2 separate regions of the Homo sapiens genome follow, and region 1 is linked to region 2. Evidence: fine-mapped expression QTL. Tissue or cell type: whole blood. Region 2 holds a variant in brackets; the other region holds the start of a gene. All regions are shown on one strand. Distances are from middle to middle.

Evidence for each region. PIP is the estimated chance that this variant, and not a neighbour inherited with it, causes the effect.
Region 1: KRT1 starts here. The variant in region 2 is fine-mapped to the expression of KRT1 in whole blood (TOPMed, PIP 0.98).

The regions. Positions count from the first base shown.
Region 1 is chr12:52,676,733-52,684,874 of GRCh38, forward strand. It overlaps KRT1 (keratin 1), which reads right to left and starts at 3,675. Exons shown (of 9, transcript NM_006121.4): 1 at 3,026-3,675; 2 at 1,810-2,024; 3 at 1,431-1,491; 4 at 918-1,013; 5 at 584-748; 6 at 327-452. The coding sequence starts at 3,616.
Region 2 is chr12:52,651,242-52,659,443 of GRCh38, forward strand. It overlaps KRT2 (keratin 2), which reads right to left and starts at 970. Exons shown (of 9, transcript NM_000423.3): 1 at 317-970. The coding sequence starts at 901. The variant G/T (reference allele first, on the strand shown) is at 4,064.

The sequences.
Region 1 (8,142 bases), 25 kb after region 2:
TTGACATTCTTCTAAACACCTACTCTAAAACCTCCTGGCTGCCCTTCCTCTCACTCCCCAACTCTTAAGTCCACTTTGGGTCATAGGCTAGATCACTCACATTGACCATCCCATCTTTCTCTACTAGGCCATTCTCACAGATTTCCCTAAAGAGAACCCAGCATGATGGCTGCATTCTGGAAACTAGCATAGTCACAAAAGGAACCAGGGATAATAATGTAGCCTTGGGATGAATTGCAAGATTCAAAACTAGGAAAGCACTCGCCCTTTACCTGAGGGTTACCCCCATTCCATACAGCTGAGTGGTAGAAGGAGAAAGCACATACCTGCTTCTTGACATTGTCGATTTCAGATCTAAGTCTCTGGATCACACGATTCAGCTCAGAAATTTCTATCTTTGAATTTCTCACACTATCCCCATGTCTGCCAGCAGTGATCTGCAGCTCTTCATACTAAAGATGGTAGATAGCGTTTGTTAAATGTAGGCAGAACTCAGCATGGCACAGGCACACATACATGAGATAACACAGGATAGCAAGACAAGCCATTTCAGGGAAACTGGCTAGGCTTTCAGCCCACTCACCTTGCTCTGGTACAAGGACTCGGCCTCAGCTTTGCTCTTCTGGGCTATATCCTCGTACTGGGCCTTGACCTCAGCAATGATGCTGTCCAGGTCGAGACTGCGGTTGTTGTCCATAGAGAGGATGACATTAGTTTCACTGATTTGAGTCTGCATCTGAGACAACTCCTGCAAGACATAATAGGTTAGTGACTCTTACAGCACTAAAACAAAAAACAACTTAGACAGAGAAAGCAGTCAGAAAATAAAAGATAAATATCTATTCTTCTGAATCGTTGTGGGTTCAGGCTTAAAAACTCTCCATTTAGATAAACTTGGTTGAAACTGGAAGACTTACTGCTTGGTAGAGTGCTGTAAGGAAATCAATTTCCTGCTGCAAGTTGTCAAGTTTGGCCTGAAGGTCCACCTTGGTCATATAAGCACCATCCACATCCTAGAGGAACAAGGGACATCATGAAGGCACATTCTCTCCAGGGCAGGTCCCTCTCATTACCTGTGAGGGGATTCTCCAAGCAAAAAAAGGAGCTTTGGGTCTACTCCACTCCTTTTTGCCCCAGGTAAATCACAGTTCCCTAACTGTCCCACCCCCGGATAGCACCATCAAGGGAGTGTGCCTGGCTTGCTGAGAATCTGCCACTCCACTTACTATGTAAGGTGCTGGGAAATATGGAGAAGCCAAGTGCCTGGATCAGTCCAGGTCCATGATGATGTGAAAATATAGCCCCACTCCATATACTCCCCAGGTCTACTACCTGGCTCTCCATATCATGGCTGCTTTCTGCTTAGTAATTGGAGACCCTCTTCCCTTATTTATTTCAAATGTGAGTTCCGTCCTACAGAATTTGCTTACCTTCTTGATGGTCACAAATTCATTCTCTGCATTTGTCCGCTTGTTGATTTCATCCTCATACCTGCAGGAAAGCAGAAACAATTAGGAGATTCAGAGGTGGTAAGACCTGAAGTCCAGCATTCTAAACTAAAGGTGGCATTGCCTATCACTGCCTTTCTATTATGAACCTAGGACATATTGGCCACTACTTTCTACTGAGCAATAAAACCACTAGACTATTTCCATCTCCTGAGAAAATGAAGATTTCTGAAAATGTCAAACTGATGTGCCTCTAACCTAAGAAAAGACATAGCTACATGCTGCTTCATGATCTTAGCTTATTACTTTCTGGAACTCTTTTACAGCAAAAGTTAAGAACTGCCCAGACAGGGTCCCTTACTTGTTCCGGTAATCCTCCACCATGTCCTGCATGTTCTTCAGTTCCGAATCCAACCGAGATTGATCACTCTTCAGTTGGTCCACTCTCCTTCGGAGATTGTTGATGAATGACTCAAAGTAGGGCTCTAAATTATGGGTTCTAGTGGAGGTATCTACCTGCTGCAGCAGCTCCCATTTTGTTTGCAGTACCTGGTTCTGCTGCTCCAGGAACCTCACCTAAAAACACAAGACCCCTTTACTCCTGATGCATAAATGGAGTCTCATAGCCATGGAGAACTGTGCCTCATTTGGAAAAGAACCTCAATTCCTATCTTCTGACCATGACAGAGAAATAGGAAGAAGATGATCAAGTTAATATCATCTGCATAATAAAACCCAACTTGTTAATTCAGAGAGGGCTTGGAAGGGAGTAACTAAACAAATACCAATAGCAAAGCGCATACAGAATTATTGCAATTATGTTTTGAAATAGGTGCATGGTATTTAAGAGATTTGCCTTCCAAAATTTTGTTAGGTATATTACCATAAAAACTGGTTTGCATCCCCAGGACACACACACATTTCAAAAGTATATCAGGAAAATTCAAAATTGGATTTGAAATTTGTTGTGGATAACCTTGGATTGGCACTATTAATGATTAAGCAAAAAATTAAAAAAATGGTTTATCTGAGTTTTTTAGAGCTGATTTTTGGAGATATTAGTATAAAAAAACTCTAGCCTCATCCAGTACCAATGTAAAATTATTAGAAGGCAGAGCTCCCCTCTGACAGCAAAAGATGTTTGGCACTGACTGACCACATGTTTTCTGCTACAATAACACTCTATACTATGTTCACACTCAACTCCCTTTCTATGGTTAGGAAGACCTTTCCAGGGTTCTCACTTGCACCCTGGAAAGTTCAGTTAGCCCCATTTCTATTATCTTCATTCAACAGATATGAGTCCCAATTCCGCTCAAGAGCTGAATAAAAAGCACTTAAATGTTAATGTCACACTGACCCACCTTTAGGTCGACCACGAACCCTTTGTCAAAGAGAGAGTCATTAACACCATTCACAAGCATACATCTAACATATCTCCTAGGAGACCATTCCACAAAACATCCTTTTAATCATGTAAACATGGAAACTTGAGGTTCAAACCTACTGTGTTTTGACTGCACCAATCCCAAGTGGACCAGCGGCAGCCCTACCAGTGCAATGAGAGAGAAACTCACCTTGTCAATGAAGGAGGCAAATTGGTTGTTGAGTGACTTGATTTGCTCCCTTTCTCGAGACTTCACCTTTTGGATCTCAGGGTCAATCTCCACATTGAGGGGCTGAAGAAGGCTCTGGTTGATAGTGACTTCTTGTATGCCACCAGGAGGGCAGACAGGACCATAACCACCCCCATATCCACCACCCCCAAAGCCACCTCCACCAAAACCACCACCACCACTGCCAAAACCACCAAAGCCACCACCCCCAATGCCACCTCCACCAAAGCCACCACCACCAAAGCCACCACCACCAAAGCCACCACCACCATAACCACCACCAAAGCCACTACCACGTCCACCTCCTCTAGCCACACTTATGGAGATGCTTTTACTGCCACCAAGGTTAACAAGACTCCGACTTCCAAATCCACCACCAGCACCAAAGCTACCACCACCACCACCACAGCTTGAAAATCTCCCACCACCTCCTCCACTGCGGCGTGTGGAGCTGCTGGTGGTCCTGCGCTGGTAGTTGATGATCCCAGCAGAGCCAGAGCTGAAGCCCCCTCCACTTCGGTACCCAGACCTGGAACTAAACTGTCGACTCATGTTGACTTAGAGAAAAGTAGGAGCAAGGTAGAGTAAGGGAAGGAGCTAAACACTCCTCTACCCCAAGCATAGAGACTTCCCCTTATATACAGGGAAGAAATTGGGCTTGGTCTTCTAGAGTCAGCGGAGATGCAGTGCCTGTCAAGGGTTTGGCTTGCCTGCAGCCATACAAGATTTTTACGAGCCTCAACAATACGATAAACACTACACACCTAGCTCCCAGGATGGGCTCTCAAAATTGCTGTGCATGCAAGATTGGTTCATGTGGTAATTATTTTATCACACAAGATCTTCCTTCAAGCATTTGTGGCTTTGGGAAAACAGGACCCCACATCTGATACCTGGTGTTTCTTGGTAGGATTTCATAACCCCCATCAAAAAGGCATGAAAGTTTCTATTCTCACCTTGCCTTTGTGAGCTACCAAGCACACTCTCTTACCATGCACAGCAGGTGCAATTCCCCGTGCTTGGATCTCAGAAGGAGCTCTCTGGCCCATTTCTAAGATCTTCTTTCCAAACTCCAGAGCTCACTCAGTTACAACCTGACAAAGAGAAAGGGCTTTAATAACTAAAAAATTAAAAGGTCTTTCATAAATATAAGCTTTATAAATATACCACAGTGATTAATTAAAGGAAGAGAAGCTGTCATTGAACAAGATGGATGAGTGGGTGGTCTGGAAGAACCAGAAGGGAGAGACATTTTTTTTCTCTGTTTCTCAGTTATTCCTTTTCTTGTTTCTTTTCTTCAAAGATAGAGCAGGAGACAGACACCAGCAATAGAAAACAGGTAGCAATGGATAGCATGCAAACGCCCTTGAGTGAAAAAGCCCACAGAGCAGTGAGACGAGTAAATAGAAGCTCTAGGACATTTTGTAAAGCACAGGGGTGGAGGTGAGGCTTGATAGGTGATTCAAGCCTCACACTGGACTGCAAAGAGAGAGAGATAAATGCAGATTTGGAAGGGAAGACAATGAGAGGTGTCTGGAGAGCCTTATATGAGAAGTTTAAATTGTTTCTGGAGGTGATAATAATGATAATACCTAACATGTATCAAAAACTGACCATGTACCAGGCACTGTTCTACGTAGCACATATGTATTAACTTGCTTAATTTTCACAACTTTGAGATAGATGCTATTTTTCTCCCCATTTGTAAAATGAGGAAGCAGAGACACAGGGGTTGAATAACGTGATCAAGTCTACACAGTTGGTAAGTGGGGTGCCTGCGATTTGAAGCAAGAATACCTAGCTATCATGTGCAAGATCCTAAACAGCATGTTGTACGACAGCACAGCAGCCGAATTCAAGTCATTCTGCCTGCTGTGTGTAAAGCCAGACAGCACAGGAAGCGCCCCACCACAGAGAGCTCTGAGGGCAGAAGGCCTGTTTTATCACTCTGAGTCCTTGGCTCCTGGCACATGCAAGTCTTGGAAAATGTTTCTTCAATTCACACTGAGAAGGAGATTTTGGTGGCACAGAGTTTAGTGAGGAGATTTTACTTCCATCCAAGTGCAAGAGTACCCAGCATGCATTGCAATGGACCAGGAAACCTCAGGGGTCTTCCTGGAGAGCAGCACTTGATCAATATCAGTGGATAATAGTGGCACTGAGATCTGGACACACTAGAAGCCCAAGCAGACTTTCATTCGAAGACTTCTTAGAAGCCTGGCATGGTCCCCGGGCCTGCACATAAACACAGAATTGAAGACTCAAAGGGGAGAAGCCAGCTCTAACTTCAGCTGGCTCCAAGTAACTCTGTAAGTGGCAAACCATAGATGTACATGGGAAGTCTCCACTATGGTGTGCAAGATCTATGGGAGAAAGGGAGTCTGTGAAGATCATCTGGTCCCATTACTCTGTGGCTCTGAATCGGGCTGGCTGTGTCGGTCCTCTCCATTGCACTCCGCTATTGAACCTTGTCCCTCTTCTCCTCCCAGTTTTTGCCCTATACCCTCCTCCAGAAAGTGCCCCTCACCGCTCCCCTGCTACTCCTCTCCCTCGCCATCACTGTGGCACTGCTGTCTGGGACTCTGTCCTAGCACTAAAATCCTTCGGCTGCTAAACCAACCATCTCTTTAGGGAATGAGTAATTCAGGTCTTGTTAGGAACAATGGAGACTGGGACAGTCTTGGCATGGTAATGACTGTTGCCTAATCATTTTCTGACAAGCAATCAAAATTATTTTAGTTCAGCATACTCCCTCATGAGACATATTGTTCTGCACAATCGATTCCTTCTAGCATTTTGGAGGGGTGTGAGTATGTGTGTGCACACATGTTTGTGTGCACACATGTTTGTGTGCATGTGTGTGCCAGCCAAAAACAGACCTTGGCAGTGATCCACACTCCCATCTTTGAACTAAGAAACTGACATACAGAAAAATCAAAGGTTTGAATGAATGGTCAGGGAATTGGTAGACAACTTAGCTGCAAAACATACCCCAGGTGCTCCTGTGAGAAGGGAGAAATGCAGGACTAGCAGGAATAAGTGCCATAAACCTCACCATAGCTTACATTTGCACAGCTCACCCCACCAAACACATATGCAAAGAGCATCCCACAAGAGCCCTGAGAACTAGGCAATCAAGCTGTTCTCAACCCATTTCATGAAACAGAAAACTGATTCTCAGAGATTAAGTGGCTTCCTCTAGACACTCCGGCTAGGAAAAGACACATCTGGAAGCAGAATCTGGGTTTTCTGATTTCAATTCAAGTGACATTCCTCCCTGAACCGGGAAGAGGCTCAAAGACAGGCAAGTGGAACTGGGCCCTATAAACAAGTACACAGAGAATTACAGAATGTTCTCATCCATGGGGCCTCAAAGGTCACATCATCTAACCTGCCTCACAGAGAAGTGAGAGCACAGGCCCAAAAAAGTAAAAAAAAAAAAAAAAAAAAAAAAAAGTGTCCAAGTCATAAGTCAATTCCTGAGACTCTTCCAATTGTTGAATCAAACTCCTTTTCTTTTTCCACTGCCCACTTTCGAGGCAGCCCAACAGAGCTGGAGCTGCAGTGCTGCCAGACCAGGCCCGTCATCTCCTGTGATGTCCCCAGGATCAGTGTGGGTGTGTGGGATATGAAGAACCACATGCAGGAAAGGTGTGAGCCACACACTCTCTCCTGGCTTACTTATGTACTGTGCATTTATGAAATAAAGACAAAATGAGAAAGAAAGAGACACTAACATCTACAGGCAGCAACTATGCTGTTAGGAGCCACATTGCATTTAAATACCACACAAAGTCTGCGTCGTGGGAGCTCTTAGCCCCATTTTAAAGAAAAGGCATCTTAGGTTTATAGAGGTTGAAATATGTGCCCAAAGTCATCCAGCAGGTAACTGACAAGCCACGCTTGCCTCACTCCAGAGTCCAAGCCCGCCGCATCACATGGGCTCCTTCTGTCATTGGCCTGCTCTCACCACCAGCACCACCTACATCTTACCCTGCTCACCCACTCCCCCGGCCTCACGCCTTGACCCCTTCACTCTCGTGCTTTGCCCAGACTGATCAACCCTCTTCTTCCCTTTCCATCCCTGTTCCTCTCTGTCTTCCAAGCCCACTTCTACTCTTCTCTTTTCTGAAAGGTCTTCTGGTTGCCTCGGCAACTTGCCACAAATCCCTACCCATAGTCAAGCTCTGGGGCACCAAAGATCTCAATTCCTGAGCATTTGGTCCTGAATCTGTTTTTGGTCCATCAGGGCTTGTGGGCAAATGCCTTCATCTCTCGCTCAAGCAGGCAGCAGACAGGTCCAGATCTCATCTCCTCCAGGGAGTTTTCCTCAGTCCACATCGGGCAAGTGCTCTATTGGTCTCTTTTTCCAAGCTCGGCTGCTGCCAGACTTAGTACATATTGATGCATTTGTTGGCTCATTTTCATGCATGTGCTTGTGTGTTTCCTGGCCCCTCAATCACTCTGGAAGCCTTTGGAAAGCAAGACTAAGTCCCCTGTGTCTTTTGATGTCCTCCCAGCATCCCACATGGCCCCTTATACTTGAGAGTTACCCCAGCGGTGCTGGATGACAGAGCACCAAAACACCCCCACCCAAGGACTCACACACACAACCCAGAACTGATCATTGAGATGAGGCTGCCAGGGGCTGGCTGTGGGGCATGGGCAGGAGCAGGTGTGGTGATGTTTTGAGAGCTTTTGTGGGATGGGACCAAGAAAAGAGTGAAGAAAGACATGCAGTGACAAGCCACCCAGCCCTGAGGGACTCCACCAGGGACATGGGACAGGGAAATCCCAGGGGAGTGAGGAAAATTGAGGCCTGGGTGGAGTGAAGAGAAATCACAGACAATGGGGAGGCGGGGCGAGATGTTGAAAGCAGCCAGGCAGCAGAGGAGGGGCCAAGGCTTCTTATGCAGGAGGGAGAGCTGCAGACAGAGGGGCAGCCCTATTTAGGATGGACAGCAAAGAAGGAGGTCCTCAGGAGTCACTCACTAGCAAGGCTGGAGCAGAGCAGAGGCCAGGAAGGAGGAAACCAAAGATGAACATGGAGGAGAGAGGCGGTGGGGCCCATCTTGCTC
Region 2 (8,202 bases):
CCAGTGGCCTGTCCCAAGGATCAGTTCAATACTTGCCTATATCCATTTTTTATGGTTTTCAGAATTTTCCATAAATATTATTTATATGGACTGTAACAATAAGGTCAAAGGGACAAATGCTTCCTAAGTGCAGGCTGTTATGGGAAATGTAACCCACAAAGCTGGCGTCTTTTCCATCTGGAAACCGCAAATGACCCAGGCTACTGCGGTACACCACTGGCTCCTAAGAAATACAAATCTGTGCCATTTTCTTTTTGGTTGGCTCTGGAAGTGAAGTGGCCTGAGCATCAGTGGGAGCCGTCTTCTCCAGAGTCACCTTGTCAATGAAGGAGGCAAATTTGTTGTTGAGAGTTTTGATCTGCTCACGCTCTTGGGCCTTCACATTCTGGATCTCTGGGTCAACTTTCACGTTGAGAGGCTGCAGGAGGCTCTGGTTGACAGAGACTTCGTGGATGCCACCAGGGTATCCTCCAGGCCCAAAGCCACCAGGACCCCCTAAACCTCCAACACCACCAGGGCCCCCAAAACCTCCAAAGCGGCCTCCACCAAAGCCGCCTCCACCGAAACCACCACCACTGAAGCCGCTGCCACCTCCAAAGCTGCTGCCGCCTCCAAAACCACCTCCTCTGCCACCAAATCCACCAGCGGCGCCAAAGCCACCACCTCCTCCAGCCACACTAATGGAGATGCTCTTGGTCCCTCCAAGGCCAACAAGACTCCGACTGCCAAAGCCGCCTCCACCGAAGCCCCCGCCACCACCACCATGGCGGCTCAAGCAGGAGAAGCTGGAAGTTGATCTCCGGCTTCCACCAGACACCACAGCTGAGCCGCTGCTGAAGCCCCGGAATCCTCCTCCACCTCCTCCTCTTCCTCGAGATTTGCAAGAGATCTGACAACTCATGATGCCTTTGTCCAGGGAGGAAAGTCACAGGCTCTTGAGAAGAGTCAAGGCTGGAGACTCAACTGTGCTGCTGGGAGGCTTTCAGGGTCCCCTTATATACCTGCCAACTAGGTGTTGTGTACATGGGTGTGGATCCACTTATACGTGGGTTTGGTCTGCCTGGGAGCTATTCCTGGTGCGTGATTATCAAGCTAATAGCCATTAAAAATCTACTAATCAGCTCCATCCCAGAACTTGCTTTGATTGCAAACTTCTGTTTATCTGGGCATCTGTCATGCAATTTGATTTTTGTAAAATCATCAAAAGAGGAGATCAGGGTTTGGGTTTCTCAATCTGGAAAAGGACCTTCTGCAGAATGCTGCTCCCTGTTCTGGACCTGCCCAAGGGAAGTCAGCTACCACCCATGCTTGTGCAGGCTCACCACCCCAGTTCAACAATGAAAGGGATGGTGGGTTTAGAGACTGCAAGAGCCCCTCAATGCCAGCCTTGTAGTTCTCTTGTAGTTTCCCTCTTTCCCAGAAAGAGCCCCAACTAGTGCAGGGGAGACTGCAAAGGTCTTAAATGACCTTAAATGCTAATTGGAAATCGACCTCCTCTTACAGAAAGTAATTGGCCTCGGATACTGCAAAAGAGGTGTCGATTTTCAAAATATCTTGGCTCTTTTCTTCCCATGCCACACCAAAAATACACAATAACTAGGCACCGAATAGAGATTTTTTATAACCATGATGGTTTGTATAACCATCAACTGTCCCTTGTCTACATGAACACCCAGAGGTTGAGAGGTATGAGAAAAGTTTCGCTGTTTCTGGACCTGTGTGATGCGGGACACCAAGTGAAAGTTTGCAAACCAAGATCCAAGTGTATATTGATTCAGTCAGTCAGTAATCACGTATTGCCTGGTGATCCTGGGAAGTGATTAGGAAGTCAGGCTCTTCAATGACATCCACAGATGCTTGAGGATAAGAAGACCATCCAGCCTGCACAGAGCACTCACACTTAAACTCAACCACTTCCTCTGTCCATGTGGCCAACTATGTGGGAGAGGTTCTTGGAGTAATAAAACTGAATTTAGTCAGAAATTCTGGGTTTGAGTCCCAGTTTTGCTATTTATTGGCTGTGAGGCCTTGAATGAAACCCTGAGGCTCTGTGGTCCCAGCTATAAAATGGGAAATTCGTATGAAGTGTTTTGAAAACCACCGTGCACAATAAAATGTCAGTATCATTATTGTTTGGGGTGAGACAAAGATAATTCCTTTTCCTTTCCCCCTTGCCATGTTACTGTCTTCTGGCTACTATGAACATGCACTCTCCACAGGCATCATAAATTACAGAACCAGGTGGTTCAGATCCTAGTACCAAGTTATCACAAAATAATGTAAAAAACATAAGTTTGAGGTCAAATCCCAATTTTCTTGTATCTTAGTTAAATGACCTCAGATAATCCATAATCCTCTTCAAGCCTCAGTTTCCTCATCTATAAAAAGTGAACAAGAATAATAAGAATATGGCTACTGTGAAAACAGAACAATACACACATGTGCTAAACACAGTTCCTAGTTCATAGCAGAAACTCAATAAATGCTATTCACCCTTCTGCATCTTCCCCGCCAAGTTTCCAATCCTGTCTTAACTACTATTCAAGGTATTTAATTTGCAGTAAAAGAATGCTGAAGGAAACAAAGCTACATGTCTCCTCAATTATTTTTTCCAATCTGGTTTGCATAATTATAATCATGCAAACAAATCATGAAGCTAACAGCTTTGGAGACAGTCTCAATCCAAAGCAAAATGTGTCATTATCTACAGATATCTGAGCAATGCCCTAGTCGTCCCTTACTCCACCATGACTGTGCTCACACTATGGCAGCTTCAGGGGGGTCTTAATGCCTCTATGAAGGAAATTGAGCCAGATTTGTGCTAGGCACCCAATCTGCATGTTTTACTGCATTTTAATTCTGCCCTCACACCCTGGTCTCCCTCCCCACTCTCTCCACTGAACATCTTCTCCTTCTAGACCCATTCACCAATTTTTGAAAGTCAAGTTGAAAGAGTCCTCCTACTCTTTTGAAATGTGGAGACTAGAATTAATGCAATTTGAATATTATGTAACATTTTATTTCTATATTTTTAAATTTTCAACTTTTACATAATCTCAATGTGCTTTCCTAGATAATATGCTTTGCATTCTTTAAGAGAGTGAAATGGAAGTTAAGAATCTTGGTCTGGTTGTGATTTTGCCTCTACGCAACTGGTATCCTCAATTTCTTCATCTATAAAATAGGAATATTTATCCTGAATCCCTACTGTCCCACAAGGACATCGAGCTATTGCTGCAAAGAGTGTTAAGCTTCACTGTCTCTGAGAAGAGAACAGGAATCCTATAGAACAAAATCCTTCTTCCTGTTCCCCACTTTTTCTTTCAACAAACTGCCAGCAAGTCCAAGATCCTAAATGCTTCTCCTCATAGTGTTTCAAAAGCTCGTCTATTGGCCAGTGGGGCAGAAAAAATGAGCCCCCAGTATTAAGCAGAGAAGGGGTTAACTGTCTAGCCAACAGGAAATAAATGCTCAACCTAGTGTGGATGCTAACACCAGAGTCTCCAGGTAAGAATTCATTTCCCTCTCTTCTGTTCTCCTTTAGCAGTGGCGTATCTACCTGCCTTACAGCCTCATCATCACAGTCCTCCCTGTGTGACAATGAACCATGTCCCAGGACTTCTGTAGGGTAGAGGCAAGGTCATATTTATCTTTAACCCAAACCTTTATCCCCTCAGCACAGAGAATCACTTGAAGAATAAGCCTGTATTCCAAAAAAATCATTTCTCTGGTTTTTGGTTTGGAATTGCAGGTGTTTCCAGATGTGTGCATGTGATGCTGGCAATGCTTGAAGTCTTCGCAGCCTTTCATGGACCTGTTGCCTAAAGGTCCCACTTGGAGTTGTCTCAGGTTTCTGTCTCAGCCCTGATCAGGGTTCTCTCCTCCAGCCAGTGAGTTTAGTCTCTCCTTCCCAAAGACTCAGTGCATCAGCTGGAGACGGCTGCTGAGCCCTCGGGGCATCTGGCTCCTACCACCTTGGAATGGAAACCAAGAGTTTGGGTTTAAGAAAACCGAACCAAAACAAACAAAAAAAAAACCCTCCTCTTCCAGCCCCTGCTGCTGG[G/T]CTCAGGCTGCTCAAGAGGACCAAAATCCTTAGAGAGTCCAATAACGTCATGAAAGAAGTTAGGAAGACAGAGAGGCGAGTCAGCAGGAGGCTGGAACAAGCTGAGCAGCAGGTCAGCTGGAAGCAGAAGCCTCCATGGGCAGCGGCTGCCTGGCCTCTGCATGGGCTGCTGGCTCCGGGTACCTTCCATCAGAGCGCCCAGGTGCTGCTCCAAGGAGCTCTGCAGCTCCCATGGCTCCCAGAAAAGAAGGGACAGGAGGCTGACAGACACCCAGCAGGAGAGACTTGCTCAACACCTCCCTCCAGGGCATTCCTTCATAAATGATCATTTTAAAACTGCCTACTCAGTCTCTCTTCCCAGCCCCTGACCCAGTTCTCCATTTTGGCCCAGGCTCCCCTCCTTTCTTACCTAACATCTCCTTTTCAGTTTTTTTTTTTTTTTCGATCGGCCCCTTTTCTTACAGCGAGACAGGTAGCTGTTTGATTTTCAGGTGCTCTGGCCAAACTGGTTATGACTGAGGAGCCAGGCTGGCAGGCAGCCACGTCCACCCTGAGCATGAAGCACCAAACATTCCCACTGTACAGAGCCCATTCTGGAACGAGGAGATTCCAGGACACACACGGCAGGCTTATCAGGAAAGCAGGATGTGTCCTCTGCTCAGAAACAATGCTGGCCCCAGAAGCAGAAGAGGAGAGAGGGCAGGGACACTGCCCAGTGCACAGCAGGGACCCTACACATGTTGGTTGAACAAGACAGCTGTCTAGCAAGAGGATATGAGCCATCAGCGCCTAGCACAGAGCGAGTCACCTCCTTTCCCATAGCCAAGGCCATGTCATGTATAGGTCTAATTTTCCAAATGGACCCCAGAATATCTGACCCAGAAAATGGCAAGTGACACAGTTCAGCTTTATTCTCAGTGGGATCAGTCTCCAGTTGAATTAGCTCTGCTGTATGCCATAGGCTACTGCAACTCCCGGGGGCCTGGGCCTTGTTTGCTAAACTGTGGTCTAGTTAATGATACTAGTGTGACATGTGGCTGTGTGTTCCCAACTACAGCAAGTCTTCATTCACACAGAGAAAGCCTCAAAGGGTCGTCTGTGAAAAGCTCTTGCCCTTCCCAGGTGCAGTCCTCACTCCAGCCGAACTGTTTCCCCGGACCACGTTCTCCTTCTGCTCTTGCACTGATATTCATATTTTGTCCATGATCTGTGTAGCCACACAAATGTGGAAGGACAAGACAGCTGTGAAATACTCCATCCCATCCTGGTCATGATTTCAGAAAAATGGAGTCGCTGTAATCATACCACTCACGCCACCCTCACAGTGCAGACTTCTCCAGGTTTCACCAGATTTAATGCTGCCCCCTTCTTACCCAACTTCTCCATCTAGAGGAGCCTTCCAACTAATGCTATATTGTGCTGCTGCCACTGACAGCTGGAATTCACTTTGGATGCCTCCACCTGGGCATTCGCCAGTTCTTCAGCAGCAGCCTGTGCCATGCACCACAGGAAGCTCTAAGAGACATCCCAGCCCTCACCTGCTCTCCCACACCAGCCCCACCTCTCTGTCCCATCACTGAGAGCTGCCGCCACCCCCTTGTGAGCTCTTTCAAGGCTTCCTGCATTTGTTCGGATAGAGATCATTGCAGAAGAAGGCAGGTGGGAAAACATCCCCCCACCAAAAAATCAGAGAGAGAGTAAGCATGAAAGTTAATTGAATTTTATAAGACCAAATTCAAGAGACTCCTGCTCCTCTTTCTAGCAACAAAGGTTTTAGACACACCGTCAGACTGTGGGTGCTGGGATGCCTCACGTTGGAAGCAAAGGCCAAAGGCTTGATTCTGAATGACCTGATTGCTCCAGGGATTTTTATGAAGCAAAGAAAAAAAGGAAAATAAAACTGCTCAAAATTCTCTGGACGGCTTTTTTTTTCCACCACAGGCTCTTCTTTAAAAGCCTTTCAATTCTAAAAAAGCAGGTGGAATCATTGCTAATTAAGCAATTAATGTTTAACAGAGCTAGTATAGTCATTCATGTGAGATTATTAAATTTACGACCTGAATTATATTTTTATGAGCCATAGGCACAATTCATAGTCCATTGGGTATTCAAAGAAGTATATTAGTCTCTATTTAGAAGTACATTTATAAGGGAAGCCATGTGATAAACTGGGAGGAATGTGTTTAGGAGTGAAGGTTGGGTTCCTCTGCCAGAAGCCAGCCCTGTCACCTTGGCATGTCACCTCCCTTGCTGGGTCCCCCTTTCCTCCCCTGTGGACTGAGGGATTTGAAAACCAACAGGAACAGGGTGACTCCTAGATAAGGAGGTAGAGGACATGCATTCCTGTGGCCAACTGCCTCCAGAACCTAAGGAACCTCAGCTTTTCTGAGCCTTGATTTTCTCATCTGTAAAGTGGAGGCGCCGGGCTACACCGATTCCTTCCATTTCAGACATCAGTTTGTGCTTTAAATGGACACAATAGCTAAAGCCCTGAGAGCAGATGCAAACTCTGGGAAAGCGTAGAGACAAAATGTGCAGACACAGACCCTGCTTTCGGTTATTTTCTCACCAAGAGATGAAGGAAGAAATGGCAGCAGTAAAGTAGACAAAGGGAAGCCAGAGAGGAGAGAGAAGGGCAAACAGGTACGCTGCAGCTGAATAGGAGGGTTTGCCATCAGGCAGGAGCTGCCATCAGTCAGGGCCCAAAAGGCACGAGTTCATTATATCTTGATTCCCCAACTGTAAGCTCCTTAGGGGCTTATATCTCTTGTTTTTCTCAAGGATACCAAGAAGTAGAGTAGATCCATAAATAACTGTCTCTTTGAAATAACCTCTCACCATTTCCAAAAGCTAAACAAAGTTTCTCAGATCCTGGTCCGTTGCTTCTCCTTTAATTCTTTCTCTTCCCTTGGGCTCGGCATACCCGGGGCAGGCAGAACCTTACCTCCTCTTCTGGAGCTCCATGTCAAGCACTAGGGAAAGTTTTGTGGAAAGTTTGCCTGGGTTTGGAGGGGGCTCTGGGTGTGTAAAATCTCCAGGTTCTCTCCCCTCCCTTGGGTGGGCATTGCTTTGCTGCTCCTGGCTCATGCCTAGACACCCTGCCTCGTTTGGGTTTGCATGCTTCAGGCTGTGTCTCTCCCACTCAGATCAAGACCAAAGATGCCAATCTCATTGGCTCTCCAATAAGACCCTTTGGAAGTCTGTATGGTTCTGCATGGACCCGCCTTCCCCACCAGGCCTCCACATGGGCACTCAGCTGGCACTTACACACTACAGCCTATATGCTGGGGGCTTCCCAGGACCCCTCTTTCAGGAGAGGCTCCAGACACCCACTCCTTCTGGTCAGGAGTCCTCTGGAGGCCCATTAATATATCCATGAACTCAGCTCGCTGTCCATATATTGGAAGACCAGATGTTGCCTGCACTTCTCTCTGTACAGGGATTAACTCCATGCCATTCATACTATTAGGGAGAAATAAGGTTTTTCTGGTAAGGAAAAGAGAGGTGATAGTGACAGAATTTTAGAATGGGGACATGATGGCAGGCTTGTCTGGGCAAATCCATGAAACCAGATTACTGCCAACATTTTCCACTGCCTGGTCCTGTGCAGACACTAATCATCAAGACACACGCAGAGGCCTTTGCAGTGTCTGATGTTCTGGGTTTCTGCTCAGGCCCAAAGGGGTAGAGACGTGAGTGGGCAAGCACAAAAGAGGGGAGGGCTGCTGTGGGGGTGGCGGTGGGCCAAGGAGGAGTTGGCAGGGGCAGTATAGTAGACTATCATACTGAATGTGAGGAAAAGGGGATCCTCCCTCCTCCCATGTCCCAGGGAGTTCATGTCACCCACTAGAAAGGCCAGGGAACGTGAGGATCCTTCCCCACCACTCGGAGTGTGAATACAATGGGCAGCCTCTTCGGTGTGGCATTGCCAAGACAGCAGAGAACTATCTGGGGCCTTGTTAATACCCAGTTTCAGAGGCCCTCATCCTGCTCTCTCTGGGGACAGAGGCATGGACACAGACTGCCATGTGTGGTACTGAGCCCAGATACAGCCAGAGCAGGAAGGTTGGGCAGGGGGCCCTTGCCCTGCCTATACCCAGGATCCCTGCACTCAGGCAGTGGGCAGTGAAGGGTAAATG